Regions from separate parts of the Homo sapiens genome. Here regions 1, 3 and 4 are each reported to be linked to region 2. Evidence: microRNA targets listed by miRTarBase, many of them from high-throughput screens and not tested one by one. Region 2 holds a microRNA gene; each other region holds the end of a gene's coding sequence.
The links. Region 2 holds the annotated microRNA hsa-miR-302d-3p (UAAGUGCUUCCAUGUUUGAGUGU, at 4,740-4,762, opposite strand). A microRNA usually pairs through its seed, bases 2 to 8, with sites in the 3' UTR of a target mRNA and lowers its output. Matches are read on the target gene's strand: a 7mer-m8 pairs with bases 2 to 8, a 7mer-A1 pairs with bases 2 to 7 and ends in A, and an 8mer does both.

Region 1 (7,242 bases), not on the chromosome of region 2:
GAGCCTGGGAGTTTGTCATTGCTGGTAATTAGCTACGCAAAACAGGTCTCGGATTTGCCAGCTCACACCTGAATACAAATAGCCCGAATTATCCGAATGTCCCTGACCACCCCACATTTCTGTTTTCCCCGTCGTATCCTAGACCTGTGATTCTCAAATTTGATCGTGCCCAAGAATGACCTGGAGAACTTGTGAAAAGCCAAATGGCTGGGCCCCACCCCCAGAGATTCTGGCTCAGTAGGCGTGGGGTGGTGGGGCCCAAGAATCTACATTTCTTTTTGTTTTTTTTGTCTTTTTTTGAGACAAGGTCTCGCTGTATTGCCTAAGCTGGAGTGCAGTGGTGCGATCATGGCTCACTGCAGCCTCAACCTCTTGGGCTCAAGCGATCCTCCCACCTCAGCCTGGAGAATAGCTGGGACTACAGGTGTGCACCACCATGCCCGGCTAATTTTGTTATTTTTTGCAGAGATGAGGTCTCCCTATGTTGCCTAGGCTAAGATTCTGCATTTCTACCAAGCTCCCAGGTGCTGTTACTGGCCCGGGACCGTAATCTTGAGTGTCTAAGGTCTAGAAAGCCTCTTGCACCCAGAAGTGACCCAGCCATGGATCCTGTATCAGACTGCTTGTTCTGACTTAGAATTCAGAAAATACACTCCCTGCAATATAAACCCCTGGTTCTGCAAACTGCCCTTCCCAGGAAAGGCAACCGTCCCTGCTAACCTCCTCCCCAGGAAACACACACAGTCACCATTGCCTGTCAGAGTGAAGACTATCACAGAGGTGACAGGGCTCAGTCCAACCCCGTGAAACCCCCAGTGAGGAGCCACAGTGGTTTGCTTCTCTGGCCTCTCCACTGTCTCTCCTAGCACCATTTTCCTGGCTGTTCTGTTGTTTTATAAACCGGTTCCTTGCAGGTTTCAGGTATGCTGTCTCTCCAGCTGCAGAGTGAGCCCCACGGCAGGGGCCGTGTGCCCACCACCTCAATGTTAGGTTTTGTTGGGTGGGTTGAATATGGCTTGAAATAAGGACCCACCTCCAGCAGCTCAGTGGTAGAAGGGGTTGTGGCTTTAGGATTTACTTTGTGGCTTGGTCACTCCTCAAGGGGCTGTGAAGCTGTCATTTTCCCACAAGCCTTGGCCCTCATGTCATTGCATGCTCAGCCTATTCCCAGCAGGCATGGAAACCACTCTTGGTGTCTCCAGACAAACTACGGAAAGGCAGCCCTGTGGGAACAGCAGGTATTCCTGGGATCCGCGGTGAGACTCCAGCTGGAGGAGTGCAGGAGGGTTCAGGCCACGGGCCCAGCAGCTACTGGTTGCCACCTGGCCTCCTGCTCAGCTCCCCCACTCCACCCAGGGTATCATTTTAGACTCCAGCACCCATTTTATTGCAAAGCCACTTACTCCTCCAGCCCTGCCTCGGTGCCTGGAATCTGCACATGCTGCCAAGGGCTGAGGCCAGAACAGTTTTCCAAACCTCTCTGACCATGGAACCGTACCCTGACCCTTTCTAATAGAGCATCTCATGGTCCCAGTGTTCTATGGAACACACTTTGGGGAAGGAGCTTGAATGGTGACTTAGAAATGATCTCAGAGTATGTGATGGGTCATTGTCAAAGAACCGACATCTAAAATTCTCCTAGAATAACAAATTAGCTAACACTGGAGGTTTATTAGGTGCTAGGCACTGTTCTAAACACCTTATAAGAATTCTGCGTTCACAGGCCAGGCATGCTGGCTCATGCCTGTAATCCCAGCACTTTGGGAGGCTGAGACGGGGGGATCACCTGAGGTCAGGAGTTTGAGACCAGCCTGGCCAACATGGTGAAACCCCATCTCTACTAAAAATACAAACAGTAACCGGGCGTGGTGATGCTTGCCTATAATCCCAGGTACGCGAGAGGCTGAGGCGGGAGAATCACTTGTACCCAGGAGGCAGAGGTCGCAGTGAGCCGAGATCGTGCCACTGCACTCCAGCCTGGGCAACAAGAGTGAAACTCTGTCTCAAAAGAAAAAAAAAAAAAAAGAAGTATGCATTCACTACTCACAACAACCCTATGAAGGGAGAGTTATTATTCCCATTTTACAGATGAAAAAATCAAGGCACAGAGACCTTAAGAAACTTTCCTAAGGTTGCCAAAGCTGTGAGAGGTGGAATAGGTGGATTTAACACCAGCCACACTGCTACAGATGGAAGGGGAGAGCAGAGACTCTCCGCCCCAGCTGCACCTGAAGTTACCTGGGAGAAAAACTATGAAGCCCAGACCAAACAAAACAGAAGCTTTGTGGGTGGGCCCCAGGCCTGTGAATGTTCCTGGATTATTGCAACGTGCAGCCAGCGTTGAGAGTGAGCAGGCTTGAGCAGGGGTTGGCAAACCGTGACCCTCAGGCCAAATCTGCCCCACTGCCTGGTTTTGCGCAGTTGGCAAGCAAAGAGCAGTTTTTGCACTTTTAAATGGTTTTAGAAAATTAAACTAATAATATTTTATGGCCAGGTGCGGTGGCTCACACCTGTAATCCCAGCATTTTGGGAGGCTGAGGCGGGCGGATCACCTGAGGTCAGAAGTTTGAGACCAGCCTGGCCAACATGGTAAAACCTTATCTCTACTAAAAATACAAAAATTAACCAGGTGTGGTGGCACATGCCTGTAGTCACAGCTACTTGGGAGGCTGAGGCAGGAGAATTGCTTGAACCTGGGATGAAGAGGTTGCAGTGAGCTGAGACTGAGCCACTGCATTCCAGCCTGGGCAGCAGAGCAAAACTCCATCTCCAAAAAAAAAAAAAAGGAAAGAGAGAATAATATTTTGTGACATGTGAAAAGTATACAGAATTCACATGTGTGTCCAGAAATAGTTTTCCTGGAGCATAGCCATGAATTCATTTACACACTCTCTGTGGCTGCTTCGAGCTACGGCAGAGCTGAGTAGCTGGTGGAGATCAGATGGCTTGCAAATCCTAAAATGTTTATTTGGCTCCTCACAGTAAAAGTTTGCTAAACCCTGGATTAGAGGAAACTGGCTTCTGTATGAGCAAAATAAATTTAAGATAGACCTAAGGAAGAACTTCCTGGCAGAGAGGTTGGTTAGACACTTGAGAGGGCTTTGGGATTCCCAGCTCTGGAGTTAAGAGGTTCCATCCACCCATCCCTCTTTGGAAATGTCAAATAGAGATAGCTAGGGCAAAGAGACGGGCCTTGAATTTCCAACCATGGAACTACCCTGGCAACCAGTGGCAGTTCTATGGGCATTTTAGCTTTGTCCTGACCCTCTGTGTTCTCCATGGCTGATGTCCTAGGACCATCTAACAGCTGTCCCCCAGCCATAGTAATGCTGGGCTTTCTTCCGGCGGTACTCCTTAGGGTTCTAGCCCCACAGAGCCAGCACAGTCCCGAGTCACCACTTAATGTGAGGCACACACAGCATGTGTGGGTTGTCTGGTCTCAAGTACGAAGCTGCTGGCAGATCTGCCTTTTTACATTTTTAAGTGTTTTATATTTTTGGAGTCTCACTCTGTCGCCCAGGCTGGAGTGCAATGGCGTGATCTTGGCTCACCGCAACCTCCGCCTCCTGGGTTCAAGTGATTCTCCCGCCTGAGCCTCCTGAGTAGCTGGGATTACAGGCACCTGCCACCATGCCTGGCTAATTTTTGTATTTTTAGTAGAGATGGGGTTTCACCATGTTGGTCAGGCTGTTCTCGAACGCCTTACTTCAAGTGATCTGCCTACCTCGGCCTCCCAGAGTGCTGGGATGTCAGACATGAGCCCTCGTGCCCAGCCTTAATTTTTGTATATTTGGTAGAGACCGGGTTTTGCCATGTTGGCCAGGCTGGTCTCAAACTCCTGACCTGAGGTGGTCCGCCCACCTCAGCCTCCCAAAGTGCTGGGATTACAGGCATGAGCCATTGTGTCTAGCCATATCTGCCTTTCAGCTAGCCTGCTTTGATCTCCCAGTTCCCCTGCCCTCCCTGCTCCCTCCCCACAAGGTTCCCATGCCCATCAAACTTGGATAGGGAGAGAACAAGCATATTTAATTTCTTCTAGATCTGCCTGCTTTCCTTGGTGCCTGACCCCTGACCCCGACTGATTTTTCCAACGCAGTAAACATCTCTGGCATCTTATGGGCGTGATCCAGGCCAGTGAGGAATTTGGCCAGGAAAGTCTTTTGTCATTTGCAACCTGGTTCGCCCTGGAACAGAGGGTTGGCCAGGAGTGAGATGCCAAGTGGGGGGATTTAAATGGTTCTCCTGAAGTGACCCCTGAAGCCAGATCTGCTGGGACAGATGTCCTGGGTGGGCATTGTGAGTCTGGCCTGTTAGGGGCAGTTAGCTTCAGATAGCACCTCAATTTCAGGTGAGCCTCAACTTCCCAGTGGGCTCTGCTGCAAAAATGTGGGGTGGGGTTCCAGGGATGGTTTTGTGGTCCTGGAAATCACTAAACAGTATGCAAAGTGGGTAAACATGGGCAATATGTGTGGGGTTTTTTTGGATTCCATGCTTGCATCAGAACCCCTGGGGGGGAAGTGCTCCAGAAAACTGTAAAGTGCCTGTCCAGGACTGGATGATCAGGACCACAGGGACATAAAGGCCAACATGATTCTTTTCCCCAAACACTTCTTATCCCAGGATATCAGCTACTAGACCACAGGGATCAACCTGCCCAACTTATTCCTGCAAGCAAGTATGTGCTTAAGTTGTATTTTGTTTTGTTTTTAAACATGATACACCTTTATCCAGGGAAGGCAGAGAACAGTCAAGTTATTCCAGCCACAGAGGAAGGGAATACCAGGGTGTGAGCCTCTCTTGCCAAAAGCCTTAGAGAATCTGGAAGAAATTCTTGGCTGTGGAGCAGCAAGAACGTGGGCCTTGGAGCTGGACAGCCTTGGCCCAGGTTCATGTCCTTGCTCTGCCATGTACTTCCCAGGACCTCTCAGTGGGTCCCTGGGCCAGCAGCCTCGCGTTCCCTGGGAGCTTGTTAGAGCACAGAGCCCACTGAGTCAGATGTGCTTTTTTTTTTTTTTTTTTTTGAGATGGAGTTTCACTCTTGTCCCCCAGGCTGGAGTGCAGTGGCACGATCTCTGCTCACTGCAACCTCTGCCTCCCAAGTTCAAGCGATTCTGGTGCCTCAGCCTCCGAGTAGCTGGGATTACAGGTGTGCACCACCGCGCCTGGCCTAATTTTTGTATTTTTAATAGAGACGGGGTTTCCCCATGTTGGCCAGGCTGGTCTCGAACTCCTGACCTCAGGTGAGCCACCCGCCTTGGCCTCCCAAAGTGCTGGGATTACAAGCGTGAGCCGCCGCGCCCGGCCAGATGTACATTTTTAACTGGACCTCCAGGTGACTCTTAGCATGTTCAGGTTTGAGGAGCACTGACCTGGGACCCTGGGCAAGTCGAGTCAAATAACTCCAGCGTGCCTCACGGTCCTCAACCTGTCGCATGGTGATAATGCCTACTTGAAAAGGTCGTTGTGATAATTCAATGAGATAATGTATTCCAGCACTTAGCACAGTGCCTGGTACATAGGAGATGTTCCATATTCATCTCCTGATGGTGGACCTTCTTTCGGGAAGTTTAAATTTCTTTTCCACTCTCAAAAACGCCTCTTGGTTTTGAACTTGAAGCTGTTGCAGTGCTGGAGTCGGACAGTAGAGGGCACTCTCGGCATTGCCATCGCGGAGAGCAAGACACGCGGGATGGAGGCTGCGTGGGTCCGGACTTCGTGTGTGCAGGTGCTGCGGGCCGGCTCCTGGGCACCCACCCAGCTCATTCGCCGAGCGGCTCCCCTCCTGGGGTTGAGTGTCCTGGGCCTGAGTCTGCAGCCTCAGCCATCTGTTCCCCAACTTGATCTCCCACTGCTAGTTACAAACAAATCGCCCGGCTTGTGCAAACCTCCTGGGCTCAGTCCCCAGTCCCGCGGGGCCGCTAGACGTTGATGAAGGATCCCTGGTCGCCGTTGGCCGTCTCGGGCTCCACACAGCGCCCTTTCCTCCGTGTAACCCTGCGGTTCCGGTGGAATTTGGCATAGCAGCGCAGCCCTGGGCGAGTGGAGGCAAGGGGGGTCAGAGGCGCGAAGGGCCCGTGCCCTCCCCTTCCTTCCCCTGCACGCTCGGGGCCAGCCAGCTCCCTCCTGCCTTCATTATTCTGCCCTACAACCCAGCTTCCTCACGGCAGCCCCAATGAGCTTAAAAGACACGAACCCGGAAGAGGGGAGGAATGAACACGGAAGGAGAACAGAGAAGACTCAGGGCGGTCGGGGCGGTGAACATATTCTGTGTGACACGTAATGGTGGGACATGGCATGCATTTGTCAAAACCCACAGAATGCACCGCACAGTGAACTATAACTTACGTTGACTTCAGTTAGTAATAATAATACATCACTATTGGTTTGTCAAGCAACAAATGTACCAAGAGAGGCCGGGCACGGTGGCTCACGCCTATAATCCCAGCGCTTTGTAAGGCCGAGGCAGGTGGATCACTTGAGGTCAGGAGTTTGAGACCAGCCTGGCCAACATGGTGAAACCCCGTCTCTACTTAAAAAAATACAAAAACTACCCGGGCATGGTGGTGGGTGCCTGTAATCCCCGTTACTTGGGAGGCTGAGGCAGGAGAATCACATGAACCCGGGAGGTGGAGCTTGCAGTGAGCCAAGATCATGCCACTGCACTCCAGCTGGGGCGACAGAGCTAGACTCCCTCTCAGAAAACAAACAAACAAACAAACAAACAAACAAATCTACCACATGATTGCAAGATGTTATTAATAGGAGAAACTGCATGCAGGGGCAAAGCAGGTATATGAGAACCACATTCTGTGAAATTTTTCTAGAAAACTGCTCTAAAAATAAAGTCCACAGGGTACGGTGGCTCACACCCGTAATCCCAGCACTTTGAGAGGCTGAGGTGGGAGGATCGCTTGAGCCCAGTAGTTCCAGACCAGCCTAAGCAACATAGGGAGACCCTATCTCTACAAAAAATGTAAAAATTAGCCAGGCATTGTGGCATACACCTGTAGTCCCAACTATAGGAAGGAGGGGCTAACATGAGAGGATCCTTTGAGCCCAGGAGTTCCAGGCTGCAGTGCGCCTTGGTTGCACCACTGTAGTTCAGCCTGGGTAACAGAGTGAGACTCTGTCTCAAAAAAATTAAAAAATAAAATACACAGATAAATTCAATTAAAAAGTCTATAATCTTGAAAATTGGAAAGGAAAAAGGTTATTAAATTTTTTTTTAAGTGGCTCAAATTC
Region 2 (7,000 bases):
TTGCATTATTAAATATGATTGTGGGAGGGGACCGCACTGAGGTGACATTTAAATAAACACTTGAAGTAGGAGAGCAAGCTGTGTTATCTCTGGGGATATGTGTTTCAAAGAGAACAGGTTTAAAAGACCCCGTTAGACATTGCTGGGTGAGCTTCAAGAAGTGCAAGGACTGTATGGCTGGAGCTGACAAAGCAAAGGGGAAGAGATACTGAAAGTAACTTGAGGAAGGAGGGGGTTAGAAATTGCTGCCCAAGAAATAAACACTGGGATGAGAAGGCCACTTGAAAAGGCTGATTTATGGCTGGGCGCGGTGGCTCACACCTATAATCCCAGCACTTTGGGAGGCTGAGGCTGGCGAATCACCTGAGGTCAGGAGTTCGAGACCAGCCTGGCCAACATGGTGAAACTCTGTCTCTACTAAAAATACAAAAATTAGCCGGGTGTGATTGGCAGTGGTGCCTGTATTCCCAGCTACTTGGGAGGCTGAGGCAGGGAGAATCGCTTGAACCCAGGAGGCAGAGCTTGCAGTAAGCTGAGATCATGCCACTGCACTCCAGCCTGGGCAACAGAGGAAGACTGCCTCAAAGAAAAGAGAAGAGAAGAAGAAAGAGAAGAGAGAAGAGGCTGATTTCTACAGCTTACCAGTTGAATTCTGCCCCTAGAAAGCAGAAATTAACATTTTAAAAATCAAAATTGCCAGGCGCGGCGGCTCATGTCTGTAATCCTAGCACTTTGGGAGGCGGAGGCGGGCAGATCACCAGGACAGCAATTCAAGACAAACCTGGCAAACATGGTGAAACCCCGTCTCCTACTACAAATACAAAAATTAGCCGGGCATGATGGCATGTGCCTGTAGTCCCAGCTACTTGGGAGACTGAGGCAGGAGAATTGCTTGAACCCGGGAGATGGAGGTTGCAGTCAGCCAAGTTCACGCCACTGCACTCCAGCCTGCACAACAAAAGGGAAACTGTCTCCAAGAAAAAAAAAAAAAGCGAATACAACTTCTCTGGGGTGGGGCGGGGGCGGGGGGGTGTTGCGATGGAGAGGAGGGGGTGTTGCGATGGAGAGTGTCCACGTCCCTTAATCTTACACTTTTCACTTACTGACTTAAAAGTGCAGCTTAGTGAGATAAAGGTGTAATTTTTTATATTATTCTAGGATAATCTGGCCCTGTGTTTTAAAAGGTACAAAGAAACTAAAGCTATGATCCCTAACATAGAAGGTAAATTATTTTTAAATTTAATTTATTAAATATAAAAATGAATGTTCTTTCTGTTTGTCTTCTGATGGCCAAATGTGAGTCCATTATTCTCTCAGACAGTTAAAGGCTAATCTAAATATTTAACTATATTAGCTATTGTGGTGATTTAAATATTTACATCTTTTTCTTGTAATTCACAGGAATGGAAACTGAAAGTGGAAATCAGGAAAAGGTAATGGAAGAAGAAAGCACTGAAAAGAAAAAAGAAGTTGAAAAAAAGAAACGGTCACGAGTTAAACAGGTGCTTGCAGATATTGCTAAGCAAGTGGACTTCTGGTTTGGGGATGCAAATCTTCACAAGGATAGATTTCTTCGAGAACAGATAGAAAAATCTAGAGATGGATGTAAGTTTGCTTCAGTAAAGGAACCAATTTTTAGATATGGTTGCCTTTAAATTTACTTATAAAATAATATATTCTTTTTTTTTTTTTTTTTTTGAGTTGGAGTCTTGCTCTGTTGCCCAGGCTGGAGTGCAGTGGCATGATCTCAGCTCATTGCAACCTCTGCCTCCTGGGTTCAAGTGATTCTCCTGCCTCAGCCTCCCGAGTAGGTGGGACTACAGGCAAGCACCACCATGCCCGGCTAATTTTTGTATTTTCAGTAGAGATGGGATTTTACTGTGTTGGCCAGGCTGGTCTCGAACTCCTGACCTTGTGATCTGCCCACCTCAGCCTCCCAAAATGCTGGGATTACAGGCGTGAGCCACTACACCCAGCCTAAAATAGTATATTCTATAATGTGTATATTCGTTTCTGTAAGTGTGTTCCGTGTAATCTGTTCTAATTTTTATTTAGTGAATGACAATCTTCTAAATAAAGACTGTTGGTAACAGTTTAGGCTATATTAAATAAGCAATTTCAAATCAAAGCTTTTAAGTATTTTGGGATTTAATTGCTTCAATAACCATTCATCATGTGTAACTCGAGAGTGCTATACTTTAGTTCATACAAGAAGGCATTTCACCTAGCTCAATGTTATTTTTTGTTTCATTTTTTTGAGGCAAGGTCTATCTTTTTTCCCTAGGCAGGAATGCACTGGCTCCATGTCTGCTCACTCCAACTTCTGCCCCCACCTCCACCCCCTCAGCCCCACCCAAGCGATCCTCCATCAGCCTCCCCAGTAGCTGAGAACACAGGCAAGCATCACCAGGCCGGCTTTTTTTTCTGGCATTTTTAAGAGATATGGGGTCCCACCATGTTGCCCAGGCTGGTCTTGAGCTCCTGAGCTCAAGAGATTTACCTTCACCCCTGAATTGCTGAGATAAGAAGCATTGAGCCACCATCCCCAGTTGCTAAATTTCAAATAGCCAACCTTGTGCTTGTTTCTAATAGGATGGGATCCAGATGTCCTCTTTGAATGTCTGGGTATTGCTAATAATTTGTGTTCAAATCTTAATCTGCAGTTACATACACTAAAATGTGTCATTTTAGGTCGCCAAATATGCAATGCCATTTAGACCCTCATACAGTTTTTTTTTGTTTGTTTTGTTTGAGTCTCTTTCTCCCAGGCTGGAGTGATCTCAGCTCACTGCAACCTCTGCCTCCTGGGTTCAAGCGATTCTCCTACCTCACTCTCGAGTAGCTGGGATTACAGGCGTGCACCACTACACCCAGCTAATTCTTTGTATTTTTAGTAGAGATGGGGTTTCACTATGTTGGCCAGGCTGGTCTTGAACTCCCCCATCCACCCGCCTTGGCCTCCCAAAGTACTAGGATTACAGGCATGAGCCACCGAGCCTGAGGGCCTGAGGGGCAGGTTAAATTGTACCAAATTGAATTAATCCTGCTGATACACTAACATATTAACTTTTTCATTTTCTTTAGATGTTGATATATCACTACTTGTGTCTTTTAACAAAATGAAAAAATTGACTACTGATGGGAAGTTAATTGCCAGAGCATTGAGAAGTTCAGCTGTTGTAGAGGTAAGAATCAAGAATAACTACTGTTTATATTTATAGTTTATAATTATAAAGAATGTTAACGTAATGATTATTATATGATTATAGCTTACAATTATAAATAATATTAGTTTTATTAATGTAATATACTATTTTAAAGCTTGATTTGGAAGGCACCAGAATCCGGAGGAAAAAACCTCTGGGGGAAAGACCAAAGGATGAGGATGAACGCACAGTGTATGTGGTAAGCTTAAGAACCCGGGTCCCCAGTCAGAAACTGGCACAGAAACAATATAATTAAGTTAAAAATTTATTGACATTCTGATTGTGAAAAACTCTAATATTGCTTTTAATTTATAATAGGAGTTACTTCCCAAAAATGTTAATCACAGCTGGATTGAAAGAGTATTTGGGAAATGTGGCAATGTTGTTTATATAAGTATACCACATTATAAGTCTACTGGAGATCCAAAGGGATTTGCGTTTGTGGAATTTGAAACAAAAGAACAAGCAGCAAAAGCAATTGAGGTAAGTCCAGATCCTAAAAAAAAAAAAAGAAAGAAAAGAAAACAAGTATTAAAATAGTAACTTTTGCAATCATTTCAGTTTCTTAACAACCCACCAGAAGAAGCACCAAGAAAACCTGGCATATTTCCTAAAACAGTGAAAAATAAGCCCATTCCAGCCTTAAGAGTTGTGGGTGAGTATTTTTCAATATTTAAATAGGTGTAGTTGAAGTAAGATGAACTAATAATGATGGCACTTTTACAGAAGAGAAGAAAAAGAAAAAGAAGAAGAAAGGCCGAATGAAAAAGGAAGACAATATCCAAGCCAAAGAAGAAAACATGGACACAAGCAACACCAGCATCAGTAAAATGAAAAGATCCAGACCCACATCTGAGGGCTCTGACATTGAGTCCACTGAACCCCAAAAGCAGTGCTCAAAGAAAAAGAAAAAACGGGACAGAGTTGAAGCATCTAGCTTACCTGAAGTCAGAACAGGGAAGAGGAAGAGAAGCAGCTCTGAAGATGCAGAATCCCTAGCTCCCCGATCAAAAGTAAAGAAAATTATTCAGAAAGACATCATTAAGGAAGCATCAGAAGCTTCCAAGGAAAATAGAGGTAAAACTACAAGGTTTTAATTAGATAAAACTAATTAATTTTAATTAATTAGTTTTTAATTAATTAGGTTTTAATTGGCTTCTGTTTCACCCATTTCACAGCCCCATGTCTTAACGGAGAGCTTTTTTATTTATTTCAAGATATAGAAATCTCTACTGAAGAGGAAAAGGATACTGGAGATCTAAAAGATAGCTCTCTCTTGAAAACAAAAAGGAAACATAAGAAAAAACATAAAGAGAGACATAAAATGGGAGAAGAAGTTATACCATTAAGAGTGCTATCAAAGTAAGTCTGTGGTTTAAATTCTGTCATTGGCTTAACAATCCATCACCATTGCTAAAGTGCAATTCCAATTTATATTCAACAGAGTTGCATATTAGCAACAGTAATGGCCTGTAGCCAAGAACTGCACACAGTGTGGGCGTTAACGCAATTGCTGATTAGGTAGGAACCACCACACTCAAACATGGAAGCACTTATTTTTGTCATGTCACAGCAAGTGCCTCCATGTTAAAGTAGAGGGGGCCCCTTAACAGATGTAAAAATACAAAATAAAGCTTAAATATATGAGCTGCGGTCAATACAATAAAGTTATTTTCTAAAAAAATAATAAAAATGTAAAAGGAAGACTTACCATCACCAAAACATGGAAGCACTTACTTCTTTAGTTTCAAAGCAAGTACATCCACGTTTAAGTGGTGGGGAGCCCAGTCTTGGAAAAAGTTAGAATCCTTTAACCTGTAACAAGCTTAGTAACCTTAAAACACAATAACAAAAAAATTTTGTAACAAAAGGTGTGCTGGCTTGGAGACACCTCCACTGAAACATGGAAGCACTTACTTTTGTTTCACACAGCAGGTACCCCCATGTTAAAGCAAAGGGGATCCCTTCAAATGAGGTTAGCGTGTTCTATTTTGGAGAAGTAAATTGGATTCACTCCTACTAAAACATGGAAGCACTTACTTTTAAAGTCACAGAAAGCACTTCCATGTTAAAGTTGAAGGGAGCCCACCCAACATACAACTTCTTTGGACTTCAGAGTATTTAGAGCTGAGGAGAAAGAAAACAAAATGGCATAACTTTAGAAGAAAAAAATTTTTTTACCTTCCTGAACTAGTTCCCAAAGATTCGTGTTCTCCTCCAGAAGGGTAAAAGGCAGGGACTTCAGCCACTTCTATTTATACTATTCTTAACTCTTGAATTCCTTTTGCCTTTTTATCTCAGAGAATCATTACAAGGGCCTTTTGTTATTTTAATGTATCAGCTCTCAGGGAATGTATGATCCTGGGTGGGTCTGGATCCTTTTTTTTTTTTTTGAAGTATACAGATGTCAATGTTAACAGCTAAAACCATTACCACAAGATATCTTCCTCTTAAAAAAAAAAAAGAAAAAGAAAAAGAAAATCTCCTATCTGCTTGTTTGATGGCATAGATTAGGGTAACAATGAGTGCTCCCACTGAGCCGAGAAAGGCATTGTGTTTCTATCTGGAGGAACTCTGTTTGAAGAAGCATCTACATGTTAAATGTATGTAAATAAATAGATTGCTTCCACGGGGTGTTTTGTTCTACTTAGAAATTCTTTTTGATTCAAGTAAATACTAAGGAATGTTATCTCTCAAATTGGAAGCAGTTTAACAAATCTTTAATCTCGCCCTTTTCCCACAGAGATGACTGATTTAGTAAATGTTACTAGTTAAGGAATTAATGCTAAAATTTTACTTTTATAAATTAAAATACTTCAGACACTCAAAAATTTAATTGGCAATCTTAAAACATTTAATCTGAATATTGGGGGAAGAGGAACTCCCTTAGCTTATTTTGCTAAATGTCTTTAGAACCTAGGAAATATTTTGAATATGTGTTTAAAGAAACAGGAAAGTTGGTGGAGGAGTTGCTCCAAGTCATTGTGAATGTATATATTTAGATATTTCCCTATTTACTTTTTATATTTAGTCATCTGTTATCACCATTTCTTTCCTTGTAGGAGCGAATGGATGGATTTGAAAAAAGAGTATTTAGCGCTACAAAAAGCTAGCATGGCTTCTTTAAAAAAAACAATATCCCAAATAAAATCAGAGTCAGAAATGGAAACAGACAGTGGAGTACCTCAAAACACTGGAATGAAAAATGAAAAAAGTAAAGATCACTGATAGTTTTGACAACATTATAATGTACTTATATATGTAAATGCTATCTCTGAGTTGTTATAAGATAAATTTTAATTTTAAAAAACTTGATTATTCTATTTCATTATTAGAACAATTCTTGATTTGTTAAGTTATCCAGATGTGTTACTTACTCTTGATATAAGAATATTTAAAAGGCTCATTTAAAACAATTTTTTAAATAACCTGAGTTTTCTCTACAGTTTTCATCAAGCACATGAGTGCAGAGTTTGCAGACTGAGCAAGTTTGTAGGAATGAAGATTGTAGTTTCTCACCTGTTAATTTCATTCTGTAGTATGCACCACAAGCAGGAACAAGTTAAAGCAGAATTCCTATGAATTCAAAATTAGGATACATTTTAAATTCTCATTTCTTGTAAAAATAAATGTTCACGTTTGAATAATAATGTATTTAAAACACAGTATCCTTTAACTTTTTTTTAACTTTATTGAGTAAAAATTTACTGTTCCTTTGTTCAGGGAGAAGGGGCAAATTTAAAGGCTTTACGAATGCTCTTCTAGCAGTAACAATTTGCATGTAGAATAATAAA
Region 3 (7,000 bases), not on the chromosome of region 2:
GCCGAGATGGCAGCAGTACAGTCCAGCTTTGGCTCGGCATCAGAGGGAGACCATGGAAAGAGAGGGAGAGGGAACTCCTGGGCTCAAGTGATCTTCCCACTCCAGCTTCTGAGTAGCAAGGACTGCAGATGAGCACCATCATGCCTGGCTAATTTTTTTATTTTTTGTAAAGACAGGATCTTGTTATGTTTCCCATGCTGGTCTCGAACTCCTGGCCCTATGTGATCCTCCTGCCTCAGCCTTCCAGTGATTAACACAGACATATACACCAATGGAACACAATAGAGTGCACAGAAATGAATATGCATATGGTCAAATAATCTTCAACAAAGATACCAAGACCACACAATGGGAAAAGGACAGTCTCTTCAACAAAGTGTTGGGAAAAACTGAATATCCATATGCAAATAATGAAATTGGGCCCTTACCTTACACGGTATACAAAAATTAATACAGAATGGATTAAGATCTAAATGTAAGATTTTAAACTATAAAACTCCTAAGACTGCTTTTTCCCTCCAACAGTGGTGCTGTTTCTGGATGGATCATATCAGAAGGCACATGATGTTGATATGTCCCATTACTAATGATGTTAACTTTTCCTGAAATAAGGTGATATCTACCAGTTCCTTTCACTATAAAGTTAGTATTTTCTCCTTTGTAACTAGTAACTATTTTGTGGAAGGCTATTTGGAGATTATATTCTGTTCTTCACAAATTTTCACCTGCTAGTTTTGCCATTCACTGTTAGGCATTGCCTAAGTCAATGATTACTGTAATAATATGCCAAATAGTGGCTTTTTAATTCCATTTTCTTTCTACATTTAATAGCTGGCATTCTACTCTAAGAAAGAGCTTTCCTTTTACCCTCAATGAGTCATGTGTTTATATTAATACATACTAAATCAATAATATGTAGAATACATATTCCTAATTCTTGGGAGATTCCTGTGAAGTATTTAGAAGACAGGGTCACAATGTCTGCAGCTAACTCGGATGTTTCAGCAAAATAACAGTGTAACAAACACACACACACACACACACACACACACGTGGTATTAAAGCAAATATGGAAAATTTTACCAATCATTCAATATAGGAACAATCTAGGGAGATCAGTGTACTATTTTGCAGCCTTTTTGCAGATCTCAATTTTTTCAAAATGTAAGGTAAAAAATATATAGATTTAATTGAAACACCATCCAAACCTTCACCAATATTTGAAAAAAAAATTCAAATAAGCCCACAGATTTAATTTATTAGCACTTAAATATATTCAGATTTTATTACCATCGTCTATAGAAATTTAACACTAGCCATCTGTGCAACTGTCCTCTGAGGCAGAGGAACACCATACGCAAATATTACACACTAAGAACAGTACCACATTCGACAAGACTCTTTCTTGATTCAGTAAACCAAGCTTGACAAACCGGCCAACCCAAGGTGAATGATTACAGTTATAGGGTACAGGGGAAATTATCACCTAGTGAATATTACAAACAATATTAAAATGTTACACAGACTTACAAAAGTTCTGCTTTTTTTTTTCCCTAAGACTGTATGTATATGTGTGTGTGCGTACACAGGTTCACAATATGGAAACCTGTACCTTACAGCACTCTTGAGGTTTCAGCAAAGCATACATTATAGACATATTTGCCATACAGTGCAATTTTATTGTATAAGCCATGAATAATAGTGCACTTAAATCCAAGAGTCACATTCAAATATTATCAAGAGAACAATCCAAATACCCGGCTATTGAAGAAATACACATTCTTTGTTTTTATAAACTAAGTTCTGCAACTACAACATTTTTTTGTGTAGATGGTATTAGATCAGTAAGGTTTTAAACAATGAGATTTAGGGTGCATTTTGTAGAATAATTCACCTCTCCAAAGATAACGTGCATTTTAAAAGTGAAGCAAATGTCTTGGCCAGACAAACACAGGCAGTGTTGTACAACTCAGTTTTATTACAAATCACAAATATAGTTAATCCTTAGACCTGCAGACGGTTAAAGAGAATGGCTCTAGAAGTCAGTAAACTCTCATCAGAATTACTTTGCAGGACAATGTAGTGTTTACAGTGAGCCTCATTATCTTCCACTAAATTGGGCACAAATTACTGTTCCACAGTGTAGTTCAAGAGCTGGAACATTAAGTTTCTTAAAAAGGATTTAGATAACAGGTTCAGGCATTTTAATATCCAGTCCTAGAATTTCAGAGGGTCTCTTCTGGGACTATTGGTTTAAAGGAAGATGCTGTGGACAGTGGATTATAAAGACCAAATGAAGGTAGAAGTAATTTTATTCAAGAAAATAAAGAAAACTGATACCATAAGAAAGTTATAGTATCAGTATATATTTTATCATCTGAGAATAAATGTAAATGGATAAATGAGTCTTTTTTTTTTTTTTTTTTTGAGATGGAGTCTTGCCCTTTCGCCCAGGCTGGAGTGCAGTGGTGCGATCTCGGCTCACTGCAAGCTCTGCCTCCCGGGTTCACACCATTCTCCTGCCTCAGCCTCCTGAGTAGCTGGGACTACAGGCGCCCGCCACCACACCTGGCTAATTTTTTGTATTTTTAGTAGACATGGGTTTTCACCGTGTTAGCCAGGATGGTCTCGATCTCCTGACCTCATGATCCGCCCGCCTTGGCCTCCCAAAGTGCTGGGATTACAGGCGTAAGCCACCATGCCCAGCCTATAATGTTTTTAAAGATGATGGGTAACATAAAAATACTATGTGGTAATAACTTAGAATACTAGGTCTGGAGGAGGAGAACAGGCCTAGCCCATGTGAAAGAATAAGCAGTAGCTAATCTATGTGGTCTTGAGGTATAGTATAAACCTGGAAAGTTCTCTGAACCTCTTCAGTTCTGAGGGTTGCCCAATTAAAACAACAACAACAACAACAACAACAAAACTTTATCAGATGTACTGAATGACTTCATTCTCTGATAAATTTCAAAGCTTCCAGAACAGAGGATCAACTATTGTAACTATTGCCCATTTCTGGTCCAGGAAATACCTTTCTGATAAAGAGTGCTCATAAAACGCTTGTGTTGTTTTCATTCATTCTATCTAGAAGTGGGCAAATACCAAAACCTTTATCCCAGATTAAGGTCGGATAATAAGTGAACCTGATGACCTACTTTAGAATGACAATTCAAACAGCTATCCCTGAAACCAGACAACTACACGAGTTATGCCTTGAAGCAGATCTTTCAAAGTGCAACGAAACATTACTCCTGTTTTTCACTTGAGGAGACTAAATTATGGTCATATCTTTTCCATGATACTGATTTTTTATTTAACATAAACCAAATACTGACTGAATCAAAGACTAAAACCCCACAAAATTTCATCCTTTAAAACAAAAAGCAATAAAATCCCACCCCTAAATCAGGCCTCAAAGTTCAAAGAAATGTTTAAAAATCCCCCATATGGGATCTGACATGAATGTCTATTATTGTCCCCCCCAAGTCTTCTCAAAAATCACTTTAAAATCTTGCTTTGAGACCCTAAGTTTTCTTGGAAATAAAATACATTTATAGATTGTTTTAAACCTACTGAATTTTACTATTTCTGCTTGCTTTCTTCCCATTTAATAAAATCAAAATAAAAAATTTTGACCAAATAAATATTTATTGAAAGGTCCTGCCACCAAAAAAGCTTCAGGTTTTTAAAAACATATAATCAAACAACAATGTTCTTCTGATTAAAAAAAAAAAAAGTACTTATTTAAATCTGAGGATCCTTATATGTTCAATAGAGGATTGTGGTGATCCTTTGTATTTTAAAAATATTATTTGTGGGGCCTACTTTACGTATCTCCTGTATAAAAACCAGCTTTCACTCCACATGAATAGAGAAGATGCTGAATACGCAGGAATCTGATTATCCCTCACGTGATTATTACCGGCCCCTCTGGGGCAATCTGCTTGCTCACTCATTCTGCCACCATTCTCTTCATTCAAGTGTTTAACAGCACATTTATCAAAGGCAGCTCTCCGATGCAATGTTTAACGAGTGTCTTCTCAGGAGTGTATCCGTGTCATTTATTCTTCTCATCCAGGTAAGCACGAACTTCACAGTACTACTAAAAATCTTCTTCAAATTATATTGATAATGGACTTATTTCTGACCGTTTTTGGATTTGGGAAAACTCTAATATTTGGATTACCAAATAACACTTCTGTAGATGCACTGATACCGAAGTTTATTTTTACAACCTGTAAACAGATCTGAAGTTTGAACAATCCCTAATTATAAATTAATACTAAAATGCAAACTTGCCAAAACAGTATAGATTGTTGTCTCAGTGAGACAGAGAAAACGAAATGCGAATACCGTGTTATGACTGTACTCTGGCTCGCACAGCAAATGTGCATCAGGAAGATGGGTCTACCTTGATGGTACATCATCCCTCCATGACCAGACCTAATACAAACTCCCTCACAAGTTTCCACCCATGGAAGCCCTATGGCCGATCAACAGAAGCAGTGGGAGTCACTTCTGGCTTTTTCTTTACTTAGACACAGGGTCTCGCTCTGTTGCTCAGGCTGGAGTGGACTGATGCGATCATAGCTCACTGCAGCCTCAACCTCCTAGGCTCAAGGGATCCTTCTGCCTCAGCTTTCCTAGTGGCTGGGACTATAGGCACACACCACCACACCAGGCTAATGGGAGTCACTTCTAAAGAAAACTCTCTAGATGGTTTTCCTTATATGCCTGTTAGCTGAGAAGAAAAGCCTCCTTCATATACAATCTTGAGACAAAAAGAGAAGAAAACAAAAAGCTCAGCTGTATTAACAGACATAGCAAGCAATTCTGAGGGAGCACAAAAAAGTGAGGCTGTTTCCTTTTTTTTTTTTTTTTTTTAACAAAACTAAGATGGACATTTCACACAACGCAGAGCTACGAGAACATCTCTTATGCTCCTTGCCATGGGATTTTAATGCCCCAAGGTTCATAACTACAGCAAAGAAAGTAAGTCAAAAATAAACTGAGCTTAAAGAAGGTGGCAGGCCAATTTTCCCAAAAAGACTGTGGACTGTGGGCTGCTGTGTAGCCTTTGCTACAAGGCTGAGGAAGCAGAAGAAAGATGAATTGGGCAATTGGTGATGAAAAGTATTTGCCATTTTCAAAGGCTTCTCAGTGTGGCCATAGATTTTGCTAGTCAATTTTTAAAAAATTATATTTTTAGCTCAACACACAGCTCTAAAGCAGGGTTCAGTGTAGTGTGTTCTCTACCGAAATGGTTATATACAGATGGTATGGAAATGGTTTTAAAGATTACTCATAAACTATCCTTTTAAAGAAAAACTAGACTCGGTCATATTTGTTAAAATGAGCAATGTCACCAAACAGAAATGTAGGTGGGAAATACTGAACCACAAACATTTGGAGTTGCAGGCATAGACTAGCAGAGCATGAATAGTCATCACTGTTTCTATAATACTGAAACACTCAAATCTGTTTCTGAGGTTTAAAACACAGAGCTATATTATATTCATAAACTTCCCCCTCCACTTAAGTTATATTTGCCTAACACATAATGGACAAATCAATAGAGCCAAAGCAAATTTGCAAAAGGCTCAGGTCAACATGAAAATTTTAACCTTAGTATTAGGAAACTCTTAGAATACTTACAAATTAAAAAAACACACAATAAAACACACATACACATATAAACCAGTGCAATAAGAACTTTAGACAAGGGCAGTGCATCTCTGGTTTAAGAAAACCTATTTGTAGCTTGATTATAATAAATTAACTCTATTCTAGATGATGGTTTAATTTTACAAGCAGCATTTGAAACACATTGTATATGTATGCTCAAAACCTGAAAACCAATTCACCAGTAACAATTCTCAATCAGTAACAAATTCCTACTTTAATTGTATATTGCACATACTTTTAGTGTCTACGTTAAAATAAATTTAACTCTTCTTAATGTAAATATCGGAGGACCATACCTGTTGCCCTTGTAGAAATAATTTACCTTGAATAACAGATTTTCCTTTCTTGACAAACAAGAATGAGAATAGATTTCAGCTTCGTTAGTCCAAAACTATTTTAAAGAAAATGGCTATTTTATGTGGCGAAGACACTGGAAATGGATTGTTAAACACAAAATCCTTGGTTTATCCATTGTTGCCATTTTGAAAAACATTTCTATGGTCAGAGTGTTTAAAAGTCTGACCCTTTTTTTAAACCACCAAATAGTCCCTAGAGAGATTAGCTGTCTCCTTGACTGCTCTAGAATGCTGTTTGGAGAGTGGACACAGAGAAAAAGCTTTGGATAAAATGGCATGAAACACAAATGGCATTAAATAGGTCATCTATTTCACGTAAAAATAAAATGACTAGCACCTCCTTCCGGCTCCCAAAGTGACAGGCCCTAACAGGCCACATGAAACATGGTTTATGATAGTAAGTTTCATTATTCATACAGTATTGAGAAATCCATTACATTAGGGGGGTCCCACATCTAAAGCCTTCACTTCAAGGCTACCGTGTAAAAGTGAACTGAAGGGCACAAGGAGAGAACGGCGGACACAGGCCCAAGAAGGTCCTTGCGAAGGGTGCGAGGAGACCTTTCAGGGACTCTCCTGCATCCCGTCCTCTGTTTCCAGTTCTGCCAACTGCCTTCGAAGGATATTGACTTTTGCTTGTAATTCTTTATTATATTCAATGATGTTAACCATTTCTTCATATGCTTCATCCAAATACTTAGAGGATCTATTCCAACGTAGGAAAATACCTATTGAATCCAGGAATGGAAAACAGAAGCAAGAAAGGTATATACAATGGATTAAAATTACATTTGTGGATAAGATGTAATTTATGTATTATACATTCTTTTTTCTTTTGTTGCCACAACTCACATCTGTATTTTATTATACTCTAAAATATACAGGAATCTTGAGGTACTGAAAAGGATGCAATTGAATACAATATTTGAGAAGTCACTACTTGTATGTACATGCTC
Region 4 (7,225 bases), not on the chromosome of region 2:
GAACCAGCTATTATTAATTCAGCTGTGATCTTTGCTTATCAAGTTTTATTTGTGGTTCTGTACAAAATTACCTAGTAAATTGTGCTTGTATCATATTATATAGAATTACTTGTTATTTAATCATATGAAATCTAATGAGAGGCACCCAGTGGCTCCCTACTGAATGCTAGATGGAATTTATACTATTCAGGACATTACTTACCCACCCCATACCTCCATCCCCAACCACACACATAAAGTAAAGGTGCAGATCTTTGTTCTCAGGACAAAATGTTAGTTACTCACAATGAGTGGGCTTTTGAGGGCTTTGAAGTGCGCGATAAAATCCTTGGATTAAATATGCAATATCTTTTATGCAAAACTTACCAGTTGTGTTAAAGGAAATACAAAAAATTGTACCCTAACGGAAGCACTTCTCTTAACAGTAAAGAACTGAGAAACTGATTAATTGCTTTTTGGTTCCAGCCTTCAGTTTCCCTTAGAAACAATAGCTTTTCTTTGCAGCTTTATTCTGGTTCCTGGAAAATATACATTGAAAAATCCTTTGCATTTCTTGAGGAAAATAGAAAAGTTTTCTCTCATTTCCCTTCTTCTTCCAGTGGTCTAATACCTTGCTATTCAATTTTTTTCATATGGTTTCTGTTTCTGCCCTTAAATAGCTATTTTTTTTTTCTCTCCCTGCAGGTGACACTGATCCCAACTCATGACTCAGAAGTGATGAGGGAATGGTACCAGGAGACCCATGAGAAACAGCAAGATCTCAACATCATGGTTTTAGCAAGCAGCAGCACAGTGGTTATGCAAGATGAATCCTTCCCTGCATGCAAGATTGAACTGTAAAAACCAAGGCCAGCCACACCACAGGATCTGAACTTTGTTTCCAGAAATTCTTCAATTTGAAATCACCTTTTCTAAAAAGTCAATTCATCTAGTTAAGTCGCTGAACAATTACCTGCCAAATGCTATACTGTGTCATGGTGATGCAAGTCACTAAATTTCTCAGTTTTTGCTGATTGCTAAGGGAAATAACAGTATTTCCACAATAGGGTTCAAATTCCTGCAAAATTACCTACCCCAGTTCATCTCTGCTGAACATTTGGAAACCATGCACTAGCCAACCCAACTGACTTCTGCTAGGTAGAGGCATTTGTCTTAGAGAGAGAGAGAGCGCGGGAGAGAGTGAGAGAGAGTGAGAGCACAAAGATAACGCAGGAGAGAGAGAGAGAAAGAATGAGAAAGAAAAGGAATGCAAGAGAAGGAGATGTAATGACAGAGAGTTCTGGTGAGATACCCAGAGAGAAAAAGAGAGAGCAGGGTGGGGTAAGGAGGAGAAAATAAACCAACAATTAGGTCTGCATTTTCTCAGGCAGTAGGCATTCTTTAGTCTACATAGGCAAAGTTTTCCATTTTTGTCAGTCTGAGTCATCAAAAAGAGTCTTAATTTTCTAAAACAAGTTGGCTAGAAGAAAGTAAAAAGAACAACACTTGTTATGAGGGCATGTGATATTTTCACATCTTAATTAAGCTCCTTCAGTTTGAAGGCTGCACACTGACATAATGTAGTGAGTGTAGACTGGCCATGCAAGTGGTTTGGGCCCCATTCAGAACTCTCAGACTCTAAACACACAAGTAGATTGATCTAAGGCATGCTCCCAGCATTTGTCCACCCACTTAGTCCACTCTGAGTCGATTAACCTGCATGCAGCAACACCCAAGTCCACCCCAATTAACTGAAGCAAATACCAAAGCAGTTGGGAGTACATATGGTAGACAATTTGCCTTAGGAAGTGACTTGAATGTACAAAGATACTTGATGCACTTATTTTTTAATGTGAGACAGCAAGTTTATAAAACATCCATATAGGATTATAGATACTTAAAGGAACACGTGGGTGAGCGTGTGTGGGGGTACTAGAAGCTGATCTGATTGGTCCAACAGTTTGATGCTGAGTCATGCGTGTTGAATCCCACTTCAGTGCACCTGTGGCCTCTCAGTCAAACAAGTTGTGCCTTTCACAGCTTCTTTACTACTGCAAGTTCAAGACTGAAATGGCTTCTATGATCAGAACTGGGAAAACAGTGAATCTTATGGTGGAAGAGGTTCTCAGCAAGTGTACAGTATTTACCTTCCTTTGTCTTACATTGGCTTTTTAAATTTTCCATTAATTTCAACATAATTATGGGAACAAGTGTACAGAAGAATTTTTTTTTTAAGATATGTGAGAACTTTTCATAGATGAACTTTTTAACAAATGTTTTCATTTACAGGAAATTGCAAAGAAAATTCTCAAGTGATAGTCTTTTTTTTTAAGTGTTTCGTAAGACAAAAATTGAATAATGTTTTTTGAAGTTCTGGCAAGATTGAAGTCTGATATTGCAGTAATGATATTTATTAAAAACCCATAACTACCAGGAATAATGATACCTCCCACCCCTTGATTCCCATAACATAAAAGTGCTACTTGAGAGTGGGGGAGAATGGCATGGTAGGCTACTTTTCAGGGCCTTGACAAGTACATCACCCAGTGGTATCCTACATACTTCTTTCAAGATCTTCAACCATGAGGTAAAAGAGCCAAGTTCAAAGAACCCTAGCACAAATTTGCTTTGGGATTTTCTTTTCTGGAAAAAAAAAATAAAAGAAATAGTACATTGAAAACAAATGAATTCTCAACTCCTACGGTTCATGTAGAGTTTAGAGAAAATTTCCATCATTGTCATCATTGAACTGTGAACCTGGGAAGCCAGATCATGATTAACACTGACATCAAGTTTCAAGTTGCAGATCAATGCACCCAGTGTTCAGATGAGGCAAACTTCTCCGTGACAACTGTGCTGTGCTCTGTCACATTACATTTCCTGCAGACTCTAAGATCTACGGAGTAGAGAACAATGACCTCATTTTATTTTCTATGTTAGTTATTTATTTCAAAATTAACATTTTAGTTGATTTTTGTCTGATAAGTCTATGTTTTGCACTGCTAACTATGATGAGGGTTTAAAAAAATGCTTCTTCAGGGTCCTTTCACTGAGGACCTATGCAGTCTACTTAATGCTGTGAATTACATTTTTCAAATGTTTAATTTTTTAAAGAAAATTAATATTCTATTTTTGTTAGGCTTCTCTAGAAATGCAGCTTTTATTTATTACCCCATTTCTTTCAAGTCCTTGGAAAATAACATATTAAGGGTACAAGAAATTAACACATGATGGAAAAGTCATTGTGACGCCAATGAATTTCATTGAGTATAAACTCATCTACTTCAAATTTATTTTATAACACAACCTAAGATACTCAAGATAATTATTTAATGGTTAGCTCTTAAGTTGAATTGGTCTACATAATGCGTGGGAAGAAAACCAGATTTTTAGCCTTCTTGCCAAATCCAGACCTCTGGTTGATTTTTCTTTGACAGAAGATGCAAGTTATTTTCCAATTTCACAATTAAATGTATTTAACCTGAACATTATTTTGCTTTAAAAACTATAAACATTGTAGGAGAATTATAGCCAGTCTTCAGTTATAACCACTCCACCCTCCTCACTTTCTCTCTCTCTCTCTCTTTTTTTTTTTTTTTTTTTTTGCTATGGGATTTAATGGGAAAAATATGTAAAAACTGTCACTAGTCAGCTGGCTCTTTTTCCTATGAAATCTATCAGTACCTTTCTCCATCCGTTGTTCTCAATATGACCACAGAGCCTGAGTATACCAAGAAAACCAATATTCGCATTACAGGTTGCTCCTGTCCTTCCAGACACCTTTCCTGCCTGTGTGACTAACCTAATTTTGCTAGTTCCATAAATACACGATTAGTTTAGTAACAGCCATCACAATGTACCATGTACATTCATGGTGAGAGCTAAAGATCGACACAGACTTCTAGGAGCTTTGTTCATACTGATTACTTAATCCAATTGTATAGATTGAATATTTGAGTGGAAGGAATTTACACTCTGTTTAAATGATGGGATTCTATCGAGATAGCACTCATGATCATGACCTTTTTGGTAGTATTCTTAAACAAAATTCTACAGAGACTAAATGTTAGCGATGATCCTCCATTTTCAATTTTAACCAATTCTGTCCCCTTTCTCAAAACCCTGAGCCCTGTGCATGCTTTCTCAGTCTTGTGGTGGGACTGGATACAATGACTAACTTCCCCTCCTCCCCTCTTTAAACACCATTTTCCATGGAGTTCAAAAAAATTTTTTTTCTTAACGTTACATATCATAGTGAATGGTTTCCCCAGTGTATATGAATGTTTTAAGTGTCTCCAATAGCTTATGCAGTCTAGGAGCTTTCCAATACTCATTTAATTAAGATTTAATCATTTGCTAATGGAAATCTTACCACCTTTCATTTTCCCTCTGTTACCAAATTTCAGCTCTTAGGAGCTGCTCTACAATTCTGAATTTGCTTTTCTTGCCTCTCTTTAGTCACCTGTCACAGGAGGTTCCTGCTCAGTAATGATATTGTGAGTTAGGATAATAACTTTTTTTTTTTGTGCTTCAGATTTAGAAGAAAAGATCCTGTTTCCATTTGAAAGGAACTGTAAGCTTTTATCTTTTAACCAACTGAACAATACACCAAAAGCAGCCTAGGGATGAGCATTTCTTTGAAAGCAATTAGGTTATTCACCTGGTATTAAAACTATTTACTGTTAAAAAATCTGTGACTTCATGAAGTTGATTTTTAAAGGCAGCATCAAAAACTGAAAAGGAAGGGAAAAAATAGGCAGCTTCTCTGCACTTGTTTGGAGCTCCCCAAAACAGGAGCCATGGAGAAGTGGCATCAAGACCGGGCTGCCCTTTCGAGAACACCCTGTGGCAGTTCAGAGACACGCTTTTCCTACACTGCATGCAGCCCCTCTTTCCAGCACTGGAAAGAAGTGGTCTTGAGCCCAGCTGAGAAGCACTTCACACTCCTCTCTCTTGTTCTGAATGGTGTTTGTGTCAGTCTGCAGCTGTGTATGGTATTATGTCTTATAATCCTGCATCACTTCTATCCTATCCAGTCATATCTAATGTAGAAAATTAGTTTCCAGTGAAAGTAATATGTAGTGCTTTTATGATATTTGTGTGCAATATCCCCTCTTCCATTGAGGATATTTGATGTAAAGGAAAAAAAAAAACTCAGTTCCACAATAAAATACAAAAGTGGCAAAAGTTCATGTGTGTGCTGTGCTGTCTTTTGCTTTGTGTTCCTGAGTTGGGCTTTGCCACTCACGCAGAATGCTGGGCAGTCAGGGCATGACGGCAGGGGGTGACTACGTTCTTTTCAAGATGGGCTCCCTGGCTTTTGGCAAACTGCCGAAAGCATCTTGCTAATGCTTGCAACTGCTACCTCGTTAACTTTTATAGCCAAGCTCTAGAGGATGTGAGCGTGTAAGGACAGAAACTGGGAGGTGAAGGGAAGGAACAATTAAAATTATTGCTTAAAAAAAAGAAAAAAAAAAGGATAGCTGGGTGCAGTGCTACATGCCTGTGATCCCAGTACTTTGGGAGGCCAAGGTGGGAGAATCATTTGAGCCCGGAAGTTCAAGGCTGTAGTGAACCATGATTGTGCCACTGCACTCCAACCTGGGCAACAGAGAGAGACTCTGTCTCTAAAAAAAAAAAAAAAAAAAAAGAAAGAAAAGATAGACCAGACCAGAACCTGTCATATTCAGCAATTGTGCTCAGTACCTATCTTTTTCTTAGTTCCTTGCTCACTGTTACAGAATATCCTCTATCTAACATAATATGTTGTGGATTTGACTCACACCCAGGAACTAGCAGTTGTTGGGAAAAAGTGATTATATATGTAGCAAAGAATACCTAACAAGAGGAGGATTTCCTCCCTGTCATTCAAATGATTATTACACATTTACCCTGTACCTGGCAGTAGGTTATATTACAAGATATAACCTAACTGCTGCCCTAACTGATTGGGGGAAGACAGACCAGCAGAGGCAATGATACCACATCGTGATGGGGGCTCCTAAAATTCAAGAGCGAGCTTAGGTGACCATAGGAAAAGCACCGCAAATGATGTCTCGGCTGAGCTCTGGAGTGTGTGTGTGTGTGTGTGTGTGTGTGTGTGTGTGTGTGTGTGTGCATTGGTTGGACCAAAAGTAAATTCCAGGCAGAGACAAGAGCTCACACAGGGTCTCAGCAGAGAGCAGGATCAGCATATGTTAAGGAGCACAGACTGCTCACAATGGCAGCATGTAAATGGGGGAGGCCCTGGCACTTCAGTTTCCCACCATGTGGCCACAAAAAACATGCCCATAAGGTTCTTAATAGAGACCTCCAAGACTGGGCCCTGCCTGTCTGCAGAGATGGTCCTTTAGCCTCAAAAGACCCCAGCAGCCTGTCCTGAGTTATTATGATATCCCTCTGTGTGTCATATCCACTCCTTTTGATCTTAACATTTCCCCTCCAAACCATGGGGCTACATTGAATGGTCCTATCAGAAATCACTGCTTGCTAAGAGGGATTCTGAAATCCCTCCAGAAATTAAAGGGTTAAGCATGTGAGCACTCAGGGTGGGAAATCATCACTTACAGATTTTAATTTCATCTATCAGACTCAAATTAAATAGTAAATAAGTTGTTTTCTATTCCACTGCCAAATTGTTCAGTTCCAGGAAGCCTTCCTTCTGGCCTGAAGCCAGGGTGGCCAACTATCTTGGTTTGCTCAGGACTGCCCTGATTTCAGCACTGAAAGTCCTGTGTCCCAGAAAACCCCTCAGTCCCTGGGAACCAGTGAGGGCTAGTCACCCTACCTGAACCCTGCCCTGCTGTTTACATCCCCTTCTCCCCCCATCTAGGCACAATGGAGGGGGAAAAGTTGGCGGCAGCTTTCCTTCAGTTTCTTTTTTCCTATCTTCTGAGAAAATCAACAAAGGTCTGTTGAGGTCCTGTGATCATATTTTCTCTCTCTTCTTAATTGTACCGCTCATTCTGGATGATTTTCTATATCCCTACAATGCTTTTTTTAACACACTCCTGACTCATGAATTCTTGGTCCCTTGCATAATTCCAGAACTATTTCCTCTTTGATCTTGTATTGTATGCCTTGGAAATTCACCGGAGCCATATATGCAGTTTTGGTCACACCTAGTTCGTTTAATATGAGCAGTTCTTCTGGATACTTCTCCAGGGGTTACTGGCAATGTTTTCACAGATGGTGGAGCAGGGCTTCTGAGGTCTGCTTGATTCACAGGGAGATCTCGCCGTACACC

Region 1: the mRNA of DRAXIN is a reported target of hsa-miR-302d-3p. Seed matches in the 3' UTR shown: 7mer-m8 at 5,266-5,272, 7mer-m8 at 4,516-4,522 and 7mer-m8 at 3,874-3,880.
Region 3: miRTarBase lists MTMR9 as a target of hsa-miR-302d-3p. Seed matches in the 3' UTR shown: 7mer-m8 at 2,670-2,676.
Region 4: the mRNA of MAP1B is a reported target of hsa-miR-302d-3p. Seed matches in the 3' UTR shown: 7mer-A1 at 1,816-1,822 and 7mer-m8 at 4,912-4,918.

What each region holds. Positions count from the first base shown.
Region 1 is chr1:11,718,373-11,725,614 of GRCh38, reverse strand. It overlaps DRAXIN (dorsal inhibitory axon guidance protein), which reads right to left. Exons shown (of 7, transcript NM_198545.4): 7 at 1-6,031. The coding sequence ends at 5,919. Among named protein-coding and RNA genes, the nearest start is that of AGTRAP, 14 kb to the left of the region's middle. RefSeq lists an enhancer at 5,802-5,871.
Region 2 is chr4:112,643,267-112,650,266 of GRCh38, forward strand. MIR302D (microRNA 302d) reads right to left here and starts at 4,805; the gene lies at 4,738-4,805. It overlaps LARP7 (La ribonucleoprotein 7, transcriptional regulator), which reads left to right. Exons shown (of 13, transcript NM_016648.4): 2 at 1,402-1,605; 3 at 3,085-3,185; 4 at 3,322-3,405; 5 at 3,525-3,689; 6 at 3,768-3,861; 7 at 3,933-4,283; 8 at 4,424-4,568; 9 at 6,269-6,420. The coding sequence starts at 1,404. It overlaps MIR302CHG (miR-302/367 cluster host gene), which reads right to left and starts at 6,785. Exons shown (of 3, transcript NR_146092.1): 1 at 6,726-6,785; 2 at 5,247-5,333; 3 at 3,454-3,702. It overlaps MIR367 (microRNA 367), which reads right to left and starts at 4,675; the gene lies at 4,608-4,675. It also overlaps MIR302A, MIR302C and MIR302B. RefSeq lists a silencer at 439-540 and an enhancer at 5,605-6,327.
Region 3 is chr8:11,322,397-11,329,396 of GRCh38, reverse strand. MTMR9 (myotubularin related protein 9) reads right to left here. Exons shown (of 10, transcript NM_015458.4): 10 at 1,251-6,772. The coding sequence ends at 6,609. It overlaps MTMR9-AS1 (MTMR9 antisense RNA 1), which reads left to right and starts at 3,969. Exons shown (of 2, transcript NR_189628.1): 1 at 3,969-4,081.
Region 4 is chr5:72,204,400-72,211,624 of GRCh38, forward strand. It overlaps MAP1B (microtubule associated protein 1B), which reads left to right. Exons shown (of 7, transcript NM_005909.5): 7 at 685-5,166. The coding sequence ends at 840. Among named protein-coding and RNA genes, the nearest start is that of MIR4803, 39 kb to the left of the region's middle.